3 separate regions of the Homo sapiens genome follow, and all the other regions are linked to region 2. The links come from fine-mapping of genetic effects on gene expression. A gene starts in region 2. Each other region holds a variant in brackets. All regions are shown on one strand. Distances are between the middles of the regions.

Evidence for each region. PIP is the estimated chance that this variant, and not a neighbour inherited with it, causes the effect.
Region 1: its variant is fine-mapped to the expression of F5 in whole blood (TOPMed, PIP above 0.99).
Region 3: its variant is fine-mapped to the expression of F5 in whole blood (INTERVAL, PIP above 0.99).

The regions. Positions count from the first base shown.
Region 1 is chr1:169,605,570-169,608,340 of GRCh38, reverse strand. It overlaps SELP (selectin P), which reads left to right. Exons shown (of 17, transcript NM_003005.4): 9 at 1,207-1,392. Among named protein-coding and RNA genes, the nearest start is that of F5, 20 kb to the right of the region's middle. The variant C/T (reference allele first, on the strand shown) is at 1,011.
Region 2 is chr1:169,584,885-169,587,655 of GRCh38, reverse strand. F5 (coagulation factor V) reads left to right here and starts at 1,175. Exons shown (of 25, transcript NM_000130.5): 1 at 1,175-1,427. The coding sequence starts at 1,270. RefSeq lists enhancers at 700-1,199, 1,200-1,701.
Region 3 is chr1:169,562,272-169,565,042 of GRCh38, reverse strand. The region is part of intron 3 of F5 (coagulation factor V); the gene reads left to right. Among named protein-coding and RNA genes, the nearest start is that of F5, 23 kb to the left of the region's middle. The variant T/C (reference allele first, on the strand shown) is at 1,057.

The sequences.
Region 1 (2,771 bases), 21 kb before region 2:
TACGGAGTTTCAGTTTGAGATGATGAAAAGAGTTTTGGAGATGAATAATGGTGATGGTGGCACAATAATATGAATGTGCTTAATACCACTGAACTGTACACTTGATATTGGTGACATGGTAAATGGTAAATTAAATTTCATGCTACGTATATCTCACTATAATAAAAAATTGAACAGCAAAAAAAAAAAAAAAGAAAAAACAAGAAGGCAATAGAATAGATGGCTATACACCATGATGCTGACACTTAGTCTGAGTTATGGAATGTATTGTATATGTTATCTGGGAGAAAAAGACACAATGAGCTCTTTGACACACTTAAAACGGATCATAAGGGATTATTCAAGCCATTGTTGTCTCCAGGAAGGTAAATGTCTAATCAAGAAAAGATAGTTGGATATTCTCTTAAGTATCCAGAGATGTGGTCTCACTAACCCCCTTCATAGGCCTTCTGAATGTTTCCCACTCCTGAACTCAGTGTCTGCATGTGACGCAAAGCCTTAATGATATTATTACTATCTATTACTACCACTGCTACTAATATAGCAGCTAATGTTCATTGAGCACTTTCTATGATCTCAGTCTAACTCTATGAGGTAGTTACAATTATTACTACCATTTTAAAGATGAGAAGAGACAACACATGGAATATGTGTGCTCTCTTCGTATATGGTTATTTATTTTACATCTTTGAGATCATGGTGTATATTATAATTTTTACTCTGATTTTTTATTTAACATCATACATTGAGACCTCTCTCCTATCTTTACAAGTTAAAATATATTATTTTTAGTGACCTTTAACATTCTTTTCATGGATCCACCATCATTAATTTCCACCCTCAATTAATGGCATTTGTGTTTGTTTTCAATATTCCGCTCTTACAAATAATGTCTTCACAAAAATCTCTAAATAGATTTTTTGGTATGCATCTTGATTACATACTTAGCATAAATTCTTGGGTCCAAAAGCATGATAACTTAAAAATTATTGACACATGTTGCCAAGATG[C/T]TCAACAAAGGTTTAGCATTTCCTAATAAAATCCTTCATGTGCCGTTATAATTAAATGACACTTTTTCTTATCTTCTATGTTAAACAAGCCCAATTCAGGAATCCCTGTTCTTGACACTAGAAAGAGTTAATGGTCAAAAATCAATGAGTACATGTGTATTACTGTTTCTTTATTCCTTACTTCCTCATCCCTTAGCTTTGCAGTGCCAGGATCTCCCAGTTCCAAATGAGGCCCGGGTGAACTGCTCCCACCCCTTCGGTGCCTTTAGGTACCAGTCAGTCTGCAGCTTCACCTGCAATGAAGGCTTGCTCCTGGTGGGAGCAAGTGTGCTACAGTGCTTGGCTACTGGAAACTGGAATTCTGTTCCTCCAGAATGCCAAGGTAAGAGTGTATTCTTTCTAACATCATGGAAATAAATTGTAGGCAGTATTTTTAAAGGCTGGATTTTAGAGGTGACAACTATGTAAGATCCACCTTGAAATGGACTGGAAAATTCATAAATACTCTCACTCATCCTCTTGTCCTATAACCCAAGGATCCCAAATGCAAATGCCTCCGGGGGATAGGCAGATTACACAAGTGTCAGGATGTCTGGCCATAGACAGTAGGGCATGGCCCTTGCTAACTCCTTATCAGGGTCTTTACCCAGACCTGAAGGCTCCTGCCACAAACCAGGTAAACTCTTCTCACCTGGCCAAACATGGCATCTGGAAAGAAGACCAGGTGGGAAAAAAATTGCTTCAGAGTGGTTGTCCCAAGGCTGGTCTGGCACTTCTAGGAACCACAGGGTATAATGGTAAAATGGGAGGGGCAGAATTTACAAGTACCCAGTTGCAAACACTCCAAGATCTGTATAAAATTGGAGAAATAGACTTAGAATAAGGTGAAGAGTGATAGAAAAAAGAGAAAAACTAATCTGTATACTGGAGGTTACGGGATTCTCAGAAGAAAGAAATGTGTGGATTCAGTATAAACATTCTATCTGCATTGTACTTGATATACATACATTTTTTGAGACGGAGTCTCACTCTGTCGCCCAGGCTGGAGTGTAATGGCACAATCTCGGCCCACTGCAACCTCCGCCTCCCGGGTTCAAGCAATTCTCCTGTCTCAGCTTCCCGAGTAGCTGGGACTACAGGTGCCCACCACTGCACCCAGCTAATTTTTGTATTTTTGGTAGAGATGAGGTTTCACCATCTTAGCTAGGCTGGTCTCAAACTCCTGACCTCAGGTGATCTGCCTGACTCGGCCTCCCACAGTGCTGGTATTACAGGTGTGAGCCACTGCTCCCGGCCTTGTACTTGATATTTAACAAGCCAGTGTGCTCTGTCAGTATTGCAACATCTTGTATGAACTTGAACGGGTTCTAGTCATCCATGTTTGTGAATTGAAGGATAGACGTATATTTTTTATATTCCCCAAGCTTTTTCCCCCTCAATGTATCCAATTCCTTAGTTAACTTTTATAGACAATGCTGCTTTTTAAACGCAAGATTTTCATTTATAAAAATCTGCAGAAATATAATAAAGAAATGAAGAAATATCCTCTTAAATACTCCTATCCTAAAATAGACACTGTTAGGCTTCTGGTATGAATTCTTCCAATATTTTCTCCGCTTTTCCTCCTATGCAATTAATATTTTTATGATGTATATACAATTTTAACAATAAAGTTGAATGGGTAAAAGACTAGACAGTTCTACATTATTTGCCATACCTTTCACTTTGTATAGACTTTCAACATTTGAGTGAAAGTGGGCA
Region 2 (2,771 bases):
GAGACAGGAAAATATGATCATAATAATAAATTTGTGATTCCTTCTTTCTCTCTTTTTCTCTTTCTTTCTTTTTCTTTCTTTCTTTTTTTTTTTTGATGGAGTTTTGCTCTCGTTGCCCAGGCTGGAGTAAAATGGCATGATATCAGCTCACTGCAAACTCCACCTTCCAGGTTCAAGCAATTCTCTTGCCTCAATCTCTCGAGTAGGTGGGATTACAGGTGTCCACCACAACGCCCGGCTAATTTTTTATATTTTTAGTAGAGAAGGGTTTCACCATGTTGGCCAGGCTGGTCTTGAACTCCTGACCTCAGGTGATTCACCCGCCTTGGCCTCCCAAAGTACTGGGATTACAGGCGTGAGCCACTGCGCCTAGCCTCTGTGTGTTAAGTGCTGGAACTATAGTTTACAGTAGCATTTTATCCTCCCAACATACCCTATCAGGAAAAATTATTATTGTCATCCTTATTTCACAGATGTCAAAACTGAACAGAGAGGTACAGTAACTTGCCCAAGACAACACAGCTAGTAAGTGAAACTGAAATCTGGACAACTGATTTTTTTCAGCCAAGCTCTTCAAGCCCGCTGCTATGCTGCAGCTTAGCTGGCGACAGGCCCTTATCAAGGCAGAACTGTGCCTTGATAGAGGCCAGGAAGGCGATTCAGAGCAGTAGGCCTTGTCCATGTGTTTGTTCCCTGCTTCTTCACCACTTGAAAATAGTGTTTCAGTGCCCAGTAACAGGGCACAATACTCTTTTCCTCAGATTAAAAGGGGAGCCATCTGCTTAAGGTGGTTGGGTGCCACTGCACTGCACAGAAGGTTCTCCAAGTGTGAGCTTGGACCCAGGCAGGCCTCAGGTCAGTGGTAACGGACGACTGCTTCCGTGGTGTTGGCAGGTGGAAATGGAGGGATACAGCTTTGTCCGGCTCATGAATCCCTGGGCATTGTCCCGCCTGCTAGAGCCTCTGATCTCTGCCCCTTCTTCACCTGCAGTAAAACAGTCACTAGTTTGGTTGCTCTCCCTAATACCTCTGGTCACTGGGAGCTGTGATCTCACCAAACCCCTGCCAGGAAAAGCCCCAGAAAAAGCGGAGGGAGTGAGAGCCAGAGGCTGCTGCTGCCGTTTGCAAGAACTGCAGGGGAGGAGGACGCTGCCACCCACAGCCTCTAGAGCTCATTGCAGCTGGGACAGCCCGGAGTGTGGTTAGCAGCTCGGCAAGCGCTGCCCAGGTCCTGGGGTGGTGGCAGCCAGCGGGAGCAGGAAAGGAAGCATGTTCCCAGGCTGCCCACGCCTCTGGGTCCTGGTGGTCTTGGGCACCAGCTGGGTAGGCTGGGGGAGCCAAGGGACAGAAGCGGCACAGCTAAGGCAGTTCTACGTGGCTGCTCAGGGCATCAGTTGGAGCTACCGACCTGAGCCCACAAACTCAAGGTAACTCAGGTGTGGAGTCCGGGTGGGCTTCTCTAGAGAGGAAAATCTATTTCTTTTAGAGAACATTCCCTTTGCAATGTCATGGCTTTTTTTTTTTTTAACTTCAGGTAAGTAAATATAACTAATAGGAGAGTATACTGAATTAAATAAACTGGGCAAATGCTAATTTTGCATCCAACAATGTAGTTTATCATTCTGAGGGTTTAGAAAGCACCCTATTTGATTGGTTAGATGCTACCTTCTTTTCAAGTTTATTTTCAATACAGTTTTGTTAGTATGTTTGTGTTGGCTTATATATTGGTTAATTCAAAGGCACCAGGCACTTGCTCCCTCATTAGCCCTTCCTGCAAACTCCTGTTCCAGATTTTTAGTTGTATAGTATTTTTATGAGACTCCTAGTTACATATTATTTATTCCATTGTCTACATAGCTTCATCTTCTAAAACTAAAAATGAACACCTTGTGCTTTTTGTCATATAATTTTATTGCTGCCTTATAAATGACTTTCAAAATATCATCAGTTCTTGTATGTTTTTGTACTTTCACCTTTTTTCTGCTTCATATTTGACTTATTTATCCTATTGAATGTGACTCTTCATTTTTTTTTCTCTCTGTTCATCATGTCCTGGGATATGGTTTACCTTGGCTACTTAAAGGCATATGTAACTGAGAGGAGGTTTAATTCAGATAAAATACTATCCTTGAGTTGCAAACTATTTTTTCTAATTGAAATGTTAAAAATAAGACTTCTCAGAAATTAACTAAATCATACAGTCTATTCAATATTTCCAGTTAGTTATTTTTTAAATGGTAAACCTGCTAGTGTGACTCACTTTTTTTCCTTACATCACACTTCATTATGAAAGATGTGTTCCTCTTTTACAATTACAAAACCAAAGTAATCTGCCAAAAAATAATGTAATATTTTGAGATCTTTTAGTGTATAATATTAACCTTTTTAAAACTCTCATTGTAACTGGGTTATTTTGGAGGGTATTACATACCATCTTGGTCTTATAATAAGAAGAGATCCCTCCTTCTCAAAAATAATCATTTTAAATATCGTACTTCAAAGTGATAATCTAGGTCACACCCACACCCTTTGGGAACTGCCGTAAGCTAAAACCCCAAGGAAAATAACAGTCCTTCTAACACTAATCTTGCCTGCTCATGAGTAGAATGCAGACTTGGTTGTTGGCTTTCTTGTAGCATGCTGGGTTCATGCTTGGGAGTTTTTTCTCTTGTCTGTAGTTAGCGTTGAAAATAACAAGCAAAATACCGGAGGCAGAACCAGATAGGGCAAAGGTCTGATTCACATGGTGAGTACACAGGGAACCATGACTG
Region 3 (2,771 bases), 23 kb after region 2:
ACCCAAGGGACAAGGAGCCCATAGTAAACAAGAGAAAAGACGTATGATAAGACTGAAGAGAGAAGTAGAGGTAAATCATACATGGACTTGTGGTCCACGTTAAGGACTTTATGCAAGAAGTAAATCTAGATATACCTACTCAACTTATGGTTTCCATGCTCAGAACCTCATGAGATACATTGCACGTTACTGTAGTACCTGAATCCTTCATTGCTATTGAATGGATGTGCCTTATTTTCCACTCCCACCTGGAGAATCCAAACATATGCTGATGCCATGCAAACTCATGCAAAGCGTTTTGAGTGGAATAGATTTTCCACAGTTGGGATGGGGAAAGGTACAATTAAAGAAGGGAAGCTGACATTGCTGTAATGTAAAAAAATATTTTATATGGAAATTTAGCATCTCAGACTTTGGCTTCAGAACATAAGGAACCAGATTTACCCTTTTTCTCAACAACTAGACAGGCAGACAAAACATATAAAACAGAAGTTTTCAGACATCGAATGACAGACAACTCAAGACAGTAAAAGAAGAGTAACAAACCAGATGTGCCCTATGAGCACCTAAGCTTACTGCTTGAAGAGTGTTTCCAGGGAACAGCACAAGCAGGGAGAACCCAGACAGAGTCTCTATGGGTTGAGGAAATAGAGTTTGGACTTCGGAGAAGCTCAAATGGCTAGAATTTGTGATTTTAGGGCAGAGTCCTGCAGAGGACAGTATAATCACAGAGAAAGAGCTCTAGAGAATCTACAGAGAGGTTTTGTCAAGTTGAATACTGATCTGCACATACATGTGAGGAAAGTACTGAGGGTAAGAAAAATGTCACTTGAAAGGAACAGGTGGAACAGTCCCTGGACCTTACTCAGGGCCGGTAATCGTTTATGTTCCTACCATCAAACATAGAAAGACCTCCTAATAAATGAGCACTGGATAGAATTGTCAGAAGGATTTAGAAACAGTGGGTGGATAAAATTAGACTACAGGCTGCTGAGGAGGCAACAGAATAAAAAACAAGATTTGATTTCAAGTATCTTAACTGTGAATAAAACTCAA[T/C]ACTAGTTAACAAGAATGCAACAAACAACAATGTAAATTCACAATGTTAATAAAAATAAACAAGCATTAGAAGAAGCAGAAAGAGATGACTCATAACCAAGAAAAAACTCAACAGATTGAGAAGTGAAAGAGAGAATAGAAGCAGCAGGCAGAGACAGTAAGACAGCTATCATAAATCTTCTCAATATGTTCCAGAAAGCAGAGAAAAGCATGAGCATGATGAAGATAGAGAATATAAATATGCATACACAGAACTTCTGTAGATGAATACAATTGTTGACATGAAAAGTAAAAAATAAAGCATAGAAAAGAAAGGTAAAAAATAAAGGATAAAAAAATATATTATAAACTGAAGGATACCACTAATACAACAAACACTGGATGAAATTAATAGCACATTAGACACTGTGAAAGGAAATAGTAGAAAATATTAATACATTGCAATAGAAACTGCAAAGTGAAATACAGAGATTAAAAAGGCTGAAGAAAGTGAACAGAGCATCAGTGAACTGTGGGACCATATCAAGTGATCTAACATATGTGTAATTGGATCCCAGAAGTAGCAGGAACAGAAAAAGTATTTGAAGAAATAATGACTGAAAAATTCCCAAATGTAATGTAAACTACAAACCAACAGATTCAAGATGTTTGACAAAACTAAGAAGAAGGAACATGAAGAAAACCACACCAAGCCACATCACTATCAAGTTGCTGGAAACCAGTGATAAAGAGAAAATATTGGAAGCAGTGAGAGATAAAAACACACACCACATACAGGGGAACAAAACCAAGAAATGATAGCAGACTTATCGTTAGAAACTATGCACACCAGAAGACAATTAGGGACATCTTTAAAGTGTTGGGAGGGTAGAAGATAGGGGAATCTGTCTGTTTAGTATTCTATACCAAGTCAAAAAGTCTTTTTTAAATGAAGGCAAAATAAAGAGTGTTTTAGACATACAAATGCAGAAAGAATTTCTCACTAACAGAGCAGAAAAAAATGTTAAAGGAACTCCTTTAGATAGAAGAAATATTATGTCAGAGAGACATTTAGATTCATAAGAAGGAATGAAAAGTTCCAGAAGTTGATAAATATAGAGAAATTTTTTCCTCGTTTTAATCTATTAAAAAGGCAATTGATTATCTAAATGTTAAAGCAAAATAGTAACAATTTATTGTGGGGTATATTATGTATATATAAATAAAATGTATGACAATAGCACAAAGGCTGGGAGGGAAGAAATGGAAATATATTATTGCAAGGTTCTTACAAGTGAAATAGTATAATATTATTTGAAGGAAGTTTGTGACAAGTTAAAAATGTACTATATATTGTAAACGGAAGGGCACCACTAAGAAAACAAAGCTAAGAAGGCAACAATGGAGATTAAACATCACTAACTATACTCAATCCAAAAGAAAACAGAAAGGAAGGGGAAAAGGAATAAAGACCAGATAGACAAATAGAAAATAAATATAAAGATGGCAGTTTTAAATTCAACCATATCATCAATTACATTAAAAGTAAATGGAAAGAACACTACAATTAAGAAACAAATAAGATTGAATAAAAAAGCAATGCTAAACTGTATGCAGAATTTAAGAAATCCACTTTAATGAGAGAGACAAAGATAGGTAAAAAATAAAGGATAGAAAATTATATACCATACCAGCTAACACTAATCCAACACAAAAGGGTGTGTAATGATGATTCC